Regions from separate parts of the Homo sapiens genome. Here region 1 is linked to region 2. Evidence: fine-mapped expression QTL. A gene starts in region 2. The other region holds a variant in brackets. All regions are shown on one strand. Distances are between the middles of the regions.

Region 1 (8,129 bases), 34 kb after region 2:
ATTTTGAAGTTCTTGTGTGCTGGAGGTGTGGCTGGGTTTTGTCTCACAGCAGAGGCAAGTAATTGTAACTCAGAAATGCGTTGCCGTCTGGCTGCTTCCTCTCTATTACTGTACACCTTGAAGGCGAGGTTGATTAATTCCTGTTGTGGGGTTTGAGGGCCCGATTCTAATTTTCGAAGTTTTTTCCTAATGTCAGGAGTGGATTGGGTGATAAAATGCATATTAAGAATAAGGCGGCCTTCTGGCCCCTCTGGGTCTAGGGCGGTAAAGTGTGTAAGGGTTGCTGCTAAGCGGGCCACGACCTGGGCTGGGTTTTCATCTTTACCTCGGGTAGTTTCTTTAAGCTTGTCATAATTAACAGCTTTGTAAGCTGCCTTTTTAAGCCCTTCAACTAGGCAGGAAACCATGTAATCTCGCCTAGCTGTACCTGGGGAATCTGCCTTATAGTTCCATTGGGGGTCCTCTCGGGGAACTGCTCTACTGCCTTCCTGGAGGTCAGGTTCACGAAGCCGGCGGTTATCAGTGTGAAATTGGGCTAGAGAAAAAACTCTTTCCTGTTCATCTGGGGAGAGGGTAGAAGTCAGGATGACATTTAAGTCACTTCAGGTTAAATTGTAGGACAGAGTTAGATATTGGAATTCCTGTATATGTTTAGTGGGGTCTGATGAGAAAGAGCCTAAATGCTGACTGATCTGAGAGAGGTCTGATAGAGAAAAAGGTACATGTACCCTGACTATGCCTTCAGCTCCAGCCACCTCTCTAAGAGGAAATTGCTGGGCAGGTGGGGAAGAATTAGTTGCAGAACTAAACTGTAAGCTGGACCGGGTGTGAGGAGGGGAGGTGGTAGAAGGATTATAGTGTGGAGGAGCGGAGGCTGAGGAAGAATTGGGACTTAGCTTGGCCTGGCGACGAGCAGCCTGGGGAGGAGGAGAAAGGTCAGATGGGTCTGTAGAAAAAAGGAAGACTGGAAAGACTCAGCAACGCTTGGGGTTGGGACTGAGGGGACAGGCGGGAGGGAAAGAAGGAGGATTTGGGAGGAATCGTATTGGGAACAGAGACTAGGGAGGGAACGAAGTGTGAAAAATGCCCATTTTTCCACAAAAATTATTTAGGTCTTGTAGGATGGAGAAATCGAAAGTGCTGTTTTCTGGCCATTTAGAGCCATTGTCAAGTTTGTATTGGGGTCAAGTGGTGTTGCAGAAGAAAATAAGGTGCTTAGATTTTAGGTCAGGTGAAAGTTAAAGAGGTTTTAAGTTCTTAAGAACACAGGAAGGGAGAAGGAGGAGGAGGAATGGAGGGTGGAATGTTGCCCATAGTGAAGGAGGCAAGCCCAGAGAAAAGAGAGAGTAGAGACACGGAGGGAAGGGGTTCGGGGGTTCTTACCCTCCAGAAAAGTGGGAAAGGGGTTGGGGCACAGAGATACGAGGTCAGGGTGTGGAAATAAGGGATCGGGGCACAGAGATATAAGAGGTTGGGGTGTGGAAATAAGGGATCGGGTGCAGAGATATAAGAGGTTGGGGTACGGAAATAAGGGATCGGGGAGCAGAGATATAAGGGGTTGGGGCGTGGAAATAAGGGATTGGGGCACAGAGATATAAGGGGTTGGGGCGTGGAAATAAGGGATCGGGGTGCAGAGATATAAGGGGTTGGGGTACTTGCCCCTCCCCTAGAAAAGCAGGACTTGCCGCTAAGGGTGAAGGAGAAGGGGTTGGGGGTTTCTTGCCCCCCAGAAAGGCAAAGAAGAGGTAGAGACACAGAGAGAATGGGTTGGGGTACTTACCCTTCCCCAGAAAAGCGGGACTTGCCACTAAGGGTGAAGGACCAAGGCAGGTGTCCCTGCGTGGTCTGACACCTCTGAAACCTGGGTGAATAATCAGAGAGGCATCCCTGCAATGATTAAACACCAAGCGAAGGCTGCCTTCCCTAGTCTGCGACCGGCGCCGGAGTTTTGGGTCCACAGATAAAACGTGTCTCCTTTGTCTCTACCAGAAAATGAAAGGAATTGAAATTAAGAGAAGGGAGAGATTGAAGTGTGGCACCAAGATTGAAAGGAGAAAGAGGTTGAGGGATAGTGAGGGAGGTTGGAGGAGAGAGTAAAAAGAGGCTGCTTACCCAATTTAAAATTGGTGAGATGTTTCTTGGGCTGGTCGGTCTGAGGACCTGAGGTCATAGGTGGATCTTTCTCACGGAGCAAAGAGCAGGAGGACAGGGGATTGATCTCCCAAGGGAGGTCCCCCAATCCGAGTCACGGCACCAAATTTCATGCGCGTCCGTGTGAAGAGACCACCAAACAGGCTTTGTGTGAGCAACGTGGCTGTTTATTTCACCTGGGTGCAGGCGGGCTGAGTCTGAAAAGAGAGTCAGTGAAGGGAGATAAGGGTGGGGCCGTTTTATGGGATTTGGGTAGATAAAGGAAAATTACAGTCAAAGGGGAGTTGTTCTCTGGAGGGCAGAGTTGGGGGGTGGGTCACAAGGTGCTCAGTAGGGGAGCTTTTTGAGACAGGATGAGCCAGGAAAAGGAATTTCACAAGACAATGTCATCAGTTAAGGCAGGAACAGGCCATTTTCACTTCTTTTGTGGTGGAATGTCATCAGTTAAGGCAGGAACCGGCCATCTGGATGTGTATGTGCAGGTCACAGGGGATATGATGGCTTAGCTTGGGCTCAGAGGTCTGACACTTCTTATGTTACATTTTCCATTTTTTCATCCAATCAGTTTTAAAAGATCACAAAAGTAATGCTTGCTTGTTTTAAAAAAAATCAAAATATTTTTTCACCAACCTAATGCTTAAAAAAAAATGCAGGCTGGGTACGGTGGCTCATGTCTGTAATCCCAGCACTTTGGGAGGCTGAGGCGGGTGGATCACCTGAGGTCAGGAGTTTGAGACTAGCCTGGCCAACATGGTGAAACCCCGTCTCTACTAAAAATACAAAAATTGGCCGGGTGCGGTGGCTCAAGCCTGTAATCCCAGCACTTTGGGAGGCTGAGGTGGGTGGATCACGAGGTCAGGAGATTGAGACTATCCTGGCTAACAAGGTGAAACCCTGTCTCTACAAAAATTACAAAAAAAAAATTAGCCAGGTGTGGTGGTGGGTGCCTGTAGTCTTAGCTACTCAGGAGGCTGAGGCAGGAGAGTGGCGTGAAGCCGGGAGGCGGAGCTTGCAGTGAGCCGAGATTGCGCCACTGCACTCCAGCCTGGGTGACAGAGCCAGACTCTGTCTCAAAAACAAACAAACAAAAAAACCCCAAAAAACCCCCACAAAAATTAGCTGGGCTTGGTGGTGGGCGCCTGTAATTCCAGCTACTCTGGAGGCTGAGGCAGGAGAATTGCTTGAACCTGGGAGGCAGAGGTTGCGGTGAGCCGAGATCACGCTACTGCACTCCAGCCTGGGCAACAGAGTGAGACTCTGACTCAAAAAAAACAAAAAACAAAGACATCTGTAGAGTAACTTGGTATCTCAACCATGCCTGGCTGTGGGCTGCCAGGCAGGGCCTGAGAGTTCTCACCTAGGCTGGGCCCTGGTGCTAATGGCTGCCTGTTTCACAAGGGACTGCTTCATCTAAGCCTTTCTTTTTCAGGAAGAGGACACCCACCCTGGTACCTGGTCCCTGGCGAGAGGTGAGTGGTGGAGTGGGGTGCCCTGAGGGTTTCCTTCTTTAATTATAGAAAGGAAGCATGTAGCAGGGCAATTGTGTCCCAGGGCTGGAACCGGGGGTCAGAGGGCCCCTGCAAGACCTTGAGGACTGCAGTGCCAGATCGTATCTCAGCTACATGGAAGCCTGGGCTCTGGTGCCCATGAGCTCCAAGGCCTCCTGTGTCCTGCAGTGCCTCCTGGACTGGGGGGCGCCAAGGAGCCCAGAAATGCTTCTGCAATGGCCAGGGGTCTGTCTGTAAGAATGTCATCTTAAGTTCTTCCTCTTTTGAAACCTCTTCTCTCACAGCCCACCTGGCAGAGGCCTAGGGTCTTTGTTCATCTTCCATTTTTTTTTCTTGTAAACTTTCTGCTTACCTGTCTCTGGCTCCTATCCTTTTAATTTCTGGCACCCAGCCTGATCTCCCTAAGTAGTCTGGGCCTCACTTTTGTGTTTCAGACCACTAGGATGGTTCTGGCTATACCCAAAAGTGTTAAAATGATTTGTGGCACTGTCAAGACCACTGGGACAAATCCCCTTTGCCCAAGAATGTCTCTTTATTTGAGATATATGTATATATGTGTGTGTATATATATATCTGTATGTATATACACATATATATGCATGTATATATGCATATATATACAGATATATATATACATGTATATATGCATATATATACAGATATATATACATACATATGCATATATATACAGATATATATACATACATATGCATATATATACACATATATATATGCATACTTATATGTATATATATGCGTATATATACGCATATATATATATATGTTTTTGACACAGAGTCTTGCTCTGTTGCCCAGACTGGAGTGCAGTGGCCCAGTCTCGTCTCACTGCAAACTCTGCCCTCTGCCTCCTGGGTTCAAATGATTCTCCTGCCTCAGCCTCCCAAGTAGCAGGGATTACAGACATGCACCACCACATCTGGCTAATTTTTGTATTTTTAGTACAGACAGGGTTTCGCCATGTTGGCCAGGCTGGTCTCAAACTCCTGGCCTCAAGTGATCCACCTGCCTTGGCCTTGTGCTGGGACTACAGGCGAGAACTACTGTGCCAGCCAGATTTTTTTTTTTTTTTTTTTTT[G/TG]GTATTGAGTTGTTTGAGTTTCTTATATATTTTTAATTCCTGTTGTTGCCTTTTTTTTGTAGAGACAGAGTCTTGCTATGATGCCCGGACTGGTCTCAAATTCTTGGCCTCAAGTGATCTTGCTGCCTCTGTCTCCCAAAGTGCTGGGATTATAGGTGTGAGCCACTGTGCATAGCCTAGTCCCTTGTTGATGAGGTAGTTTGGAAATATTTTCTTCCATCCTGTAGCTTGTCTTTTCTTTTTTGAGACAGGGTCTCACGCTGTCGCCCATGCTGGAATGCAGTGCTGCAATCATGGCTCACTGAAACCTCCACTTCCTGGGTTCAAGTGATTCTTGTGCCTCAGCCTCCCGAGTAGCTGGGATTACAGGTGTGCACCACCACATCTGGCTGATTTTTATATTTTTAGTGGAGACAGGGTTTCACCATGTTGCCCAGATTGGTCTCAAACTCTCCACCTCAGGTTCAGGTGATCTGCCTGCCTTGGCCTCCAAAGTGTGGGGATTATAGGGGATTAAAGGCAACTGGCCTTTGCCATGCAGAAATTTTTTTTTTTTTTTTTTTGAGATGAAGTCTTGCTTTTTTCCCCCAGTCTGGAGTGCAATGTCATGATCTCGGCTCACTGCAACCTCCACCTCCCAGGTTCAAGCGACTGTCCTGCCTCAGCCTCCCAAGTAGCTGGGATTATAGTTGTGTACCACCACACCCAGCTAATTTTTTGTATTTTAAGTAGAGATGGGGTTTCACCATGTTGGCCAGGCTGGTCTTGAACTCCTGACCTCAGGTGATCCACCTGCCTCAGCCTCCCAAAGTGCTGAGATTACAGGCGTGACCCACCGCGCCTGGCTGTAGAAACTTTTTAATGATGTAATCCCATTTGTTTGTTTTTTCTTCTGTTGCTTTTGCTTTTGAGGTCTTACCCAGAAAATCTTTCCCAAGACCAATGTCCTGACTAATGTTTTCTTCTAGTTTTGTAGTTTCAGGCATTAGATTTCAGTATTTAATCAATTTTTATTTGATTTTTGCATATGGTAAAAGATTGCAATCTAGTTTCATTCTTCTGCATATAGATATCCCGCTTTCTCGGCACCAATTATTAACAAGACTGTCCTTTCCCCAATATATGTTCTTGGCACCTTTGTCAAAAATGAGTTGTCTCAAAAAAATTAGCCGGGCATAGCGGCGTGCGCCTGTAGTCCCAGCTGCTGAGGAGGCTGAGGCAGGAAAATGGCGTGAACCCGGGAGGCAGAGCTTGCAGTGAGCTGAGTTCACGCCACTGCACTCCAGCCAGGGTGACCGAGCAAGACTCCGTCTCACAAAAAAAAAAAAAAAAAAAAAAAAAGAGTTGTCTATATGTGCATGCATTGATTTCTGGGTTTTCTATTCTGTTCCATTGGTCTATGTGTCTGTTTTTGTGCCAATACCATGCTGTTTTGGTTACTATAGCTTTGTTTTGGTTACTATAGCTTTGTTGTATAATTTGAATTCAGGTAGTGTGATACCTCCAGCTTTGTTGTTTTTGCCCAGGATTGCTTTAGCTATTCGGGGTCTTTTGTCGTTCCATACAAATTTTAGAATTTTTTTTTCCTGTTTATGTGAAGAATGCCATTGATATTTTAATAGAGATTGTATTGAATCTGAAGGTCACTTTGGATATTATGGGCATTTTAACAATATTAATTCTTCTGACCTATGAGCATGGGATATCTTTCCATTTTTTGGTGTACTCTTCAGTTTCTTTCATTAGTATTTTATAGTTTTCCTTGTGGAGATCTTCTAATTAATTTTGTCCTAGGTTTTTTTTTTTTGTAGCTATTGTAAAGGAGATTGCTTTATTGGTTTCTTTTTCAGATTGATTATTGTTAGCATATAGAAACACTACTGATTTTTGTATGTAGATTTTGTATCCTGCAATTAAACTAAATTTGTTGATTAGTTCTAAGAATTTTTTGGTGGGGTAGGTTTTTCTAAAAATAAGATCATGTCATGTGTTTCCAAGGCTAATTTGACTTCTTCCTTTCCAATTTGGATGCCCTTTATTTCTTTCTCTTGCCTAATTGCTCTGGCTAGGATTTCTAGTACTATGTTGAATAACAGTGGTGAAAGTGGCATCATTATCTTGTTTCAGACCTTAGTGGAAAGGGCTTTCCGTTTTTCCCCATTCCGTATGGTATTAGCTATGTGCTTGTCACTTATGGCCTTTATTGCATTGAGGTATGTTCTTTCTATATCCAATTTCTTGAGAATTTTATCATGAAGGGATGTTGAATTTTATCAAATGCTCTTTCACAATCTACTGAAATGATCATATGGCTCTTTTGATTCTGTCGATGGGGTGTATTACGCTTATTGATTTGTATATGTTGAACTATCCTTGCATCTGGGGATGAATCCCATTTGATCATGGTGAATGATCTTTTTTTTGAGACAGAGTCTCGCCCTGTTGCCCAGGCTGGAGTGTAGTGGCACGATCTTGGCTCATTGCAGCCTCCACCTCCTGGGTTCAAGCGATCCTTATGCCTTGGCCTCCTGAGTAGCTAGGATTACAGGCATGCGCCACCTCCCTGGCTAATTTTTGTATTTTTAGTACAGACAGGGTTTCGCCATGTTGGCCAGGCTGGTCTTGAACTCCTCGCCTCAAGTCATCCACCTGCCTTGGTCTCTTAGTCTCCCAAAGTGCTGGGATTACAGGCGTGAGCCACCATGCCTGGCCACAGGGTACTTCTTGCCTTGTAGAATGAGTTTGGAAGTATTCCCTCTTCAATTTTTTAGAATAATTTGAGTAGAATTTGTATTAATTCTTCTTCAAATATTTGGTAGAATTCAGCAGTAAAACCATCAGGTCCTATGCTTTTCTTTAAAGAGATACGTTTAATTTCTGCTTTCATCTCATTACTCATAGTTGGCCTGTTTAAGTTTTCTGTTTCTTTATGATTCAATTTTGGTAAGTTGTATGTGTCAAATAATTTATCTTTTTAGTTTTCCAATTTGTTGGTGTGTAGTTTTCCATAATAGCCTCTAATGATCCAGGCCGGATGCGGTGGCTCACGCCTGTAATCCTAGCACTTTGGAAGCCTGAGGCGAGTGGATCACCTGAGGTCGGGAGTTCAAGACCAGCCTGACCAACATGGAGAAACCCTGTCTCTACTAAAAATATAAAATTAGCTGGGTGTGGTGGCACATGCCTGTAATCCCAGCTACTCAGGAGGCTAAGGCAGGAGAATCGCTTGAACCCGGGAGGTGGAGGTTGCAGTGAGCTGAGATCGTGCCATTGCACTCCAGCCTGGGCAACAAGAGCAAAACTCCATCTCAGGGGAAAAAAAAAGTCTCTAGTGATTCTTTGTATTTCTGCGGTATCAGTTGTAATGTGTCCTT
Region 2 (8,129 bases):
TGCTCTTTCACCCAGGCTGGAGTGTAGTGGTGCCATCTCGGCTCACCGCAACCTCTGTCTCCCAGGTTCAAGCGATTCTCGTGCCTATGGCTCCCAAGCAGCTAGGATTATAGGCGTGCACCACCATGCCCAGCTAATTTTCGTATTGTTTGTAGAGATGGGGTTTAGCCACGTTGCCCAAGCTGGTCTCAAACTCCTGGCCTTGAGTGATCTGCCCACCTTGGCCTCCCACAGTGCTGGGATTACATGTGTGAGCCACCACGTCCGGCTTAAGATCGCATTTCTTATCAGAGGCTCGAGAGCTAAACCTTGTGCCTGCATCTCTTGTCCCCTTTGGTCTCACCTGCTCCAGGCAGCTCCGACAGGCTTCCTGGATCAGCTGCTCTGCGTCCACCTCCTCCCCAACATTGTCTCGCACGTTCAGTGCTGCCTTCTGGAAGAACTAGGGGAGCACAACAGAGGACAAGGTCAGAGTCCTGTTAATGTGCATCAACCTGAAGGAAACTGAATATAAAATAAGTCTTTATCCTAGCTTCATACAGAAGGGAAAAGTGATTATGAGCAGGGCTTTGGGATCAGCCAGATTTAGATTCACATTTCAGGCTTGACCTCCTCCCTTTATTCCCCCTCTTACGGATATAATCGTGGGGGTGCCCAACAGATTGAGGTGTAAATAGTGCAAAAAATCAGGACGGGCGCGGTGGCTCACACCTGTAATCCCAGCACTTTGCGAGGCCGAGGTGGGCGGATCACGAGGTCAGGAGATCGAGACCATCCTGGCTAACACGGTGAAACCCCGTCTCTACTAAAAATACAAAAAATTAGCTGGGCGTGGTGGCGGATGCCTGTAATCCCAGCTACTTGGGAGGCTGGGGCAGAGAACTGCTTGAACCCAGGAGGCGGAGGTTGCAGTGAGCCAAGACCGTGCCACTGCACTCCAGCCTGGCGACAGAGTGAGACTCTGTCTCAAAAAAAAAAAAAAAAATTTTTTTTTTTTTTTAGTAGAGATGAGGTCCCACTGTGTTGCCCAGGCTGTTCTCAAACTCCTGGCCTCAAGTGATCCTGCCTCGGCCTCCCAAAGTGCTGGGGTTGCAGGTGTGAGCCACTGTGCATGGCCCCAATAATGGTTATATTATTAAACAACTAATAAGAATACTTATTGGACACTTGTTATGTCTGGAGCACAGTGCTCAGCACAGTACATTTAAGTCACTTCATCCTTATAAGAGGTCAGCAAAAAAAACCACGTGCGTGACAAGGGCAGATTTTAAAAAAAAAAGGTATCTGAATTACCCTCAAGGAGGGAATAAAATTCTTGGGGGATTAAAAATTTGAAAACTGACCAGGTGCCCTGGCTCACACCTATAATCCCAGCACTTTGGGAGGCCAAGGCAGGCAAATCATTTGAGGTCAGGAGTTCGAGACCAGCCTGGCCAACAGTGAAACCCCGTCTCTACTAAAAATACAAAAATTAGCCCTGCAAGGTGGTGGGCACCTGTAATCCCAGCCACTAGGGAGGCTGAGGCATGAGAATCGCTGGAACCTGGGAAGTGGAGGTTGCGGTGAATCGATATTGTGCCACTGCACTCCAGCCTGGGTGACAGAGTGAGAATCTGTCTCAAAAACACAAAACAAAACAAAACAAAAACAACAAGAAAGGAAAACTTTAGATATCTGTATGTAGGAAAGAGACAGACTGGTGATGCAGGCAAGGACTGGGCTCCTCATGAGTCTTTCTCCTGTTATTTTTTATCCTGTGTCCCTCTCACCTTCATGTACTTGTTGAAGACAGTCTGGATCTCCTCGTTGATGCTGGGCTGCAGGACAGCTCGGAGGAGATCCATGGAGATGGCAGGATCTGTGAAACTGCATTCAGGAGGGAGACAGGGTGAGGGGGCATGTCCCAAACATATTCTTTCCCAGCCTCCCCAGTTAATTATGGACATAGAATTCCTTAACAATACTAGACAGCTTTTATTGAAAACTAGCTACATGCTCAGATTTTGTGCAAATCACAGAGGCATGACTTTATTTCTTTCTCATAATAACTCTATGAAGTGCATATTATTTTCAAAGTTTTTTTTTTTGAGACGGAGTCTCACTCTGTTGCCCAGGCTGGAGTGCAGTGGCGTGGTTTTGGCTCACTGCAACCTCTGCCTCCTGGGTTCAAGCAATTCTCCTGCCTCAGCCTCCTTAGTAGCTGGGATTACAGGTGTGCACCACCACGCCCGGCTAATTTTTGTATTTTTAGTAGAGACCGGGTTTCTCCATTTTGGTCAGGCTGGTCTCGAACTCCCAACCTCAGGTGATCTGCCCGCCTCAGACTCCCAAAGTGCTGGGATTACAGGCGTGAGCCACCGCGCCCGGCCAATTTTTTGTTATTTTTAGTAGAGACGGGGTTTCTCCATGTTGGTCAGGCTGTTCTGGAAGTCCCGACCTCAGGTGATCCACCCACCTCAGCCTCCCAAAGTGCTGGGATTACAGGCGTGAGCCACCGCGCCCGGCCCAAAGTGTTTTTATGAAATATAATACTTATACAGAAAAGTCTATACACTTTAATGAGTAATTATAGTGAACATCCATTTCACCACTATCAGCATCCCAAAGGCCCACCTTGTGCTCTCTCCCTTCCCTGACATGCATACTATTAATCCCTCTTTATAGTTGAGAAAACGGGCTCATCAGAGTCTGTTGATGAGAACACAGTTGTCTGACTCCAGAGCCTGTTCTCTTAAACTCCATGCTAACTGACCTCTTTAGAGCCCTCAACCACAGAGCCAGTGAATGTGAGGGATCTTAGGTATTGTTTATTCCACAACCCATCTCCTGTGCCCTTCCCCATTTTGTACGTGAGTTCAGAGAAGGAAGTGACTTGACTAGTTCAAGATCACACAGAGTTACAGAATCGGAGTCTCCTCTTCCTCAGTCCTGTGCTCTTTCTACCGGCTGTAGATCTCCATAGCCTTGTGCACTGGGGATCCCAAATCTGCCATGCAAGCCAGTGGCTGGGATATAAGCCCCATGCAGGGCCAGCCTTACCTTGTTGTCATCTGTGAGCGGCGGCCCCTCCGCTGCACCTGCCGGTGCTTTATCATTATGTTCCAAGGGTTCTGTGGGGACCAACGGAACAAATGTCACTGCGGCCTGTGACACTGGGGTGGGGTGGAGGTGGAGGGTGGGTATGAAGTTAAACCTGGACATCCCTGCTTCTCAGATCCGTCACCATCTCTCCCGCCTTGGGGTGGGACGATAGTTGTAAGGCCTCCTCCACAAAAGAGGAACTGAGGAAGTTTCCTGCCTTAAAAGTCCCGACCCTGCCTTCTGGCACGGCAGGAGGAAGGGAAGCAGTATTTACCGAGGGTCAACTCTGTGTCAGGTGATGTCCGGGGCGTTGTACCCGCCTTTATCTTCCCATCCCACAACAAGTTTTATGAGACAGGTACTAATCATTTCCATTTTATAGAAGAGGATCCTGGGACTCAGGGGGTTGACAGAGATGGCCCACGTCACCTAGCTAGGAGGGCGGCACCAGAATTTAAATCCAGGTCGTCGGGCTGCGAAAACGCCAACCCCCTCTGCAGCTCCAGCCTCCGCGTTCTCTCGCCCGCGGGCCAGGGTCCCAGGAGCCCCGAGGCCGTGCCCGGCCTGAGCCCAGACCTCACCGGGGGCGCCCTCACCGTAAGAACCAGCTGCCCCGCTGCGCCCGCATCCCCCAGCTCCAAGCCGCCCCTCTCGGCCCCGCTAGGTCCCCGCGGCTGCTCGGCGTCGCCAGTGGCTCCCATGGCGCCCCCGGCCCCCACAACTCCGCTGGACTCTGTCACCGGCCGGAAAGTGGCGCCGTGACGTCACTGGAGCGCGCTGCTCGTCCGCCCGGAAGCGCGACGCTGGAGCTGCGGGGTTACCATGGGAACCGAACCGCCGCGCCTCGCCCAGGACAGTTACACTTAGAGGCCTTGTAGGTGGAGGTCGTTGGGGCTTCCTCTCGGGAGGGCTGCGCCTCGATTGTGCAGTGTGGGTGTTCAGTGGCGGTTCAGTCAAGGGATGTTTCCCGCTGGGCCAAGGCCTGGGGATGACTGCGGGGTAGGAGGAAGGGACCAGTTTTCTGTAGGCTGGGGTTGGGGAGCAGAGGGAAGCGTTTGGTACAGCGGCGCCTGCAGTTCAGTTTTTGAAAACTAGATTTTAATATGCTCGGCCAGGGGCGGTGGCTCACGCCTGTAATCCCAGCACTTTGGGAGGCCGAGGCGGGAGGATCACTTGCCATCAGGAGTTCGAGACCAGCCTGGCCAACATGGCGAAACCCCGTCTCTACTAAAAATATAAAAATTAGCCGGGCGTGGTGGTGGGCACCTGTAATCCCAGCTACTCGGGAGGCTGAGGCAGGAGAGTCTCTTGAACCCAGGAGGCGGAGGTTGCAGTGAGCCGAGATCACGCCACTGCACTCCAGCCTGGGCGACAGAGGGAGACTGTCTCAAAAAAAAAAAAAAAAAAAGCACATTAGGCACATGTTAGGTCATCATCAAATGTTAATTATGCCGAGATCGCGCCACTGCATTCCAGCCTGGGGGACAGAGGGAGACTCTGTCTCAAAAAAAAAAAAAAAAAAAAAAAAAAAAGCATATTAGGCACATATGAGGTCATCATCAAATGTTAATTATCTCCATGAGCCAACATCAGCCTTCTAACCATAAGGGCGACTTCCTGGCTCCAAACTTTTTGATCCTATTAAGGAGGTTTTACCTTGTACCTGCCCATAGGACTAAGCAGTGCCAGTGGACACCATTAGGTATCACAGCTAACCAAAGGCATGACCAGGACAGATAAAGAAAAAAAGAAATGGAGAAAAAAGAAATAAAGGAGGTATATGTGGGCAGACTATTTGAGTCATACATAGCAACTTCTCTTGGGTTCTGCCAGCTAGACTTCATACAGTCCAAGAATGGCCTGTGTGGGTTAGAGGGACAAAGATGTAGGTGTTTGGTGCTTTTCATTAGTTCTTAACAAACTCAACTACTGCTTTTCTGTAGGTTTTTGATAGTTTCTTTTCTCTCTTTTTTTTTTTTTTGAGACAGAGTCTCACTCTGTTACCCAAGCTGGAGTGCAGTGGCATGATCTCCACTCACTGCAACCTCTGCCTCCTGGGTTCAAGCTATTCTCCTGCCTCAGCCTCCCACGTAGCTGGGATTACAGGCATGCACCAGCATGCCCAGCTGATTTTTGTATTTTTAGTAGAGACAGGGTTTCGCCATGTTGGCCAGGCTGGTCTCAAACTCCTGACCTCAGGTGATCTGCCCGCCTTGGCCTATTTGATAGTTTCTGAGTGGTCTGTTCCATTCTGTATTTTCTTGGTTGCTAGGATGAACAGGAGCCACAATTTTATTATGCTTGGTTATGTTATTAGCTTTGGCCATTAAGTAGTGTCGTGAATCCCTCCCTCTGTTATTTGGGCTAAAGCCATGTCCTTCCAATGCCCTTTAGGGCTCTCTTTGATTCTTTTTCCAATGGCCACCCCTCCATTTTTCCAGCCACCCACTAGGTTTCTCATCATCCAGGAATATTGTGTATATTGCTTACAGAATTTGATCCTCCCATCACAGGTCCCCTTTGGTAGTGCCAGGAATTTTCCCACACTCCAGCAGCCAATCCCTCTTCTTCTTGTCAGGAGAAGATATTCTTGGGGAGTATTGTGAAAGGGAAGGTTTTGGGACTGGGTTTGGGGCCATCCCTAGTCCTGCTCATACCTCAGCTGATACTCTGGGCAAGGTGTACACCTCTAGCCTGAACTGAGCTCTTGTCCCAACTCTCAGCATCATCATGATGTTAAGCTGCCTCTTTCTTCTGAAGGCACTTCTTGCTCTTGGGTCTCTGGAATCCTGGATAACTGCAGGAGAACATGGTGAGCTATCATTTGGGATCCCTGGCCAACAGTAACAGAAAGTGACTAGAGGAGAGGAGAACTCATCCCCTGCCTTCTCCCAGAGCAAGGTTGCTTGTAAGTGGAGATGATCATCTCTATAGGACAGGACTGGATGAATAGATTCTCAGGATGGCCTGGGTCATTCTTCCTGGCTTTCTTTACCCTCTCTGGACAAGGAGATAGGACTTCCAGTTGGGCTTACTAGAGGTTCTAGCTTTTCCCTAGAACTCATTAAATGAGAACAGGATCATCCCACCCTTTCTCTCTCGTTATCTGCAGGATGGCTGCTCCTTTAGCAGTGGTGGATATATGTTAGTATTTGTGTATGAGGAGGGGAAGGTGGTTGCAGAATTTTTTTTTTTTTTTTGAGATGGAGTCTCACTCTGTCACCCAGGCTGGAGTGCAGTGGCGTGATCTCAGCTCACTGCAAACTCCACCTCCCAGGTTCACGCCATTCTCCTGCCTCAGCCTCCCGAGTAGCTGGGACTACAGGTGCCCGCCGCCACGCCCAGCTAATTTTTTGTATTTTTAGTAGAGATGGGGTTTCACTGTGTTAGCCAGGATGATCTCGATCTCCTGACCTCATGATCCGCCCGCCTCGGCCTCCCAAAGTGCTGGGATTACAGGCATGAGCTATCGTGCCCAGCCAGAATTTTTTTTTTTTTTTAAGAGACAGGGTCTCATTCTGTCACCCAGGCTAGAGTGCAGTGGTGCAGAAATATTTTGGATAGAGATGCCTGGAGGGGCTGAAGGTCCATTCCCCATTTCTGAGGCCTGGCTAGTTACCCCAAACTCAAATAGTATCTTTTGCAGCAAAAGAGGGAGAATGCCCTCCCCATAAGAACCCATGCAAAGAGCTGTGCCAGGGTGATGAATTGTGTCCGGCTGAACAGAAGTGCTGCACCACAGGCTGTGGTCGGATCTGCCGAGACATTCCTAAGGGTATGTTGGCATGAGGGGCAAAATCTGGGCATACTCTCTGACATTGCCTCTGGGATAGATGGAAGTAGAGAGCTTCCCACCTTCTAGGTTGCCTCTGGAAGTCTCCCTTGCCTAGAGTACTTCTTCTTTACTCTTTTAGGGTCCCTCCTCCTTTAATTATTCAGTGCCCCCAGTTGTTTGCCTTCCATCAGGAAAGAGCGCACCATTGATTATCTATGTCTTTTACTTTGGACTCAAAGTTCCTGTGAAGGCTGGAGGGAAGAGTTGTAAAGGGAAGGCTGTGTAAGATAATGATTAAGAGAGTAGACCCTAGAGCCAAGCAGACCTTTTTAAGCCTTAAGCCTTAGCTCTTTATAAATCTTAAGCTTTTAGCCTCAGTTTCCTCATCTATAAAATGGGGATAATTGTGAGGATCAAATAAGATGTTCATGGCACAAGGTAAACGTCAGTAAATGTTACAGTAAATATTTGCTATTACTATTGTTGTTATTATTGTCTCTTTGTCTTAGCACCAGGGTTGAGAGGCTTAAATAAATCTCAGGACTTCCTTTTTCTGTTTTTCCCTTCTGCTGTGCCCGTGGGTGTTGCCAGGCACTATTTTCTCTCTCTCTCTCTCTTTTTTTTTTGAGACGGAGTTTCGCTCTTGTTGCTCAGACTAGAATGCAGTGGCGTGATCTCGGCTCACCGCAACCTCTGCCTCCCGGGTTCAAGTGATTCTCCTGCCTCAGCCTCCCAAGTAGCTGGGATTTACAGGCATGTGCCACCACCCCCGACTAATTTTGTATTTTTAGTAGAGATGGGGTTTCTCCATGTTGGCCAGGCTGTTCTCGAACTCCCTACCTCAGGTGATCCACCCGCCTTGGCCTCCCAAAGTGCTGGGATTACAGGTGTGAGCCATGGCGCTCGGCCTATTTTCTCTTTTCTTTGCTGTCTCCCTTTTTGCTACAGGGAGGAAAAGAGATTGCCCTAGGGTTATTCGGAAACAATCCTGTTTGAAAAGGTGCATCACTGATGAGACATGTCCAGGTGTAAAGAAATGCTGCACGCTTGGCTGCAACAAGAGCTGTGTAGTCCCAATCTCTAAACAGAAGCTGGGTAAGAAACGCTGTCCCCACACCTCATGGTCTGTTTGGTCTGCTTGTTTATTTCTCAAATATGCACATATCAGCTTGTTGGTTTTACTTTGCTGCTATATTCTAAGACCTTAAAAAAAAAAGATATACAAAGGGTGCACAAGCCATAATCATTTGTGGTATGTAGCCTGGGCAGGCAG

Direction of the effects. Positions count from the first base shown, and alleles are read on the strand shown. Sizes are in standard deviations (SD) of each study's normalised expression.
As copies of TG replace G in region 1, the expression in subcutaneous fat of the gene that starts at base 3,833 in region 2 goes up (moderate effect, 0.53 SD a copy in TwinsUK).

Evidence for each region. PIP is the estimated chance that this variant, and not a neighbour inherited with it, causes the effect. A credible set is the group of variants that fine-mapping cannot tell apart.
Region 1: its variant is the best candidate, but not a certain one, in a credible set for the expression of DNTTIP1 in subcutaneous fat (TwinsUK, PIP 0.52).

What each region holds. Positions count from the first base shown.
Region 1 is chr20:45,753,883-45,762,011 of GRCh38, reverse strand. No RefSeq gene overlaps it. Among named protein-coding and RNA genes, the nearest start is that of WFDC3, 34 kb to the left of the region's middle. The variant G/TG (reference allele first, on the strand shown) is at 4,756.
Region 2 is chr20:45,787,658-45,795,786 of GRCh38, reverse strand. It overlaps DNTTIP1 (deoxynucleotidyltransferase terminal interacting protein 1), which reads right to left and starts at 3,833. Exons shown (of 13, transcript NM_052951.3): 1 at 3,678-3,833; 2 at 3,040-3,110; 3 at 1,770-1,866; 4 at 344-442. The coding sequence starts at 3,782. WFDC3 (WAP four-disulfide core domain 3) reads left to right here and starts at 3,904. Exons shown (of 7, transcript NM_080614.2): 1 at 3,904-3,955; 2 at 5,805-5,893; 3 at 6,728-6,856; 4 at 7,805-7,951. The coding sequence starts at 5,812. RefSeq lists silencers at 3,131-3,270, 3,481-3,750.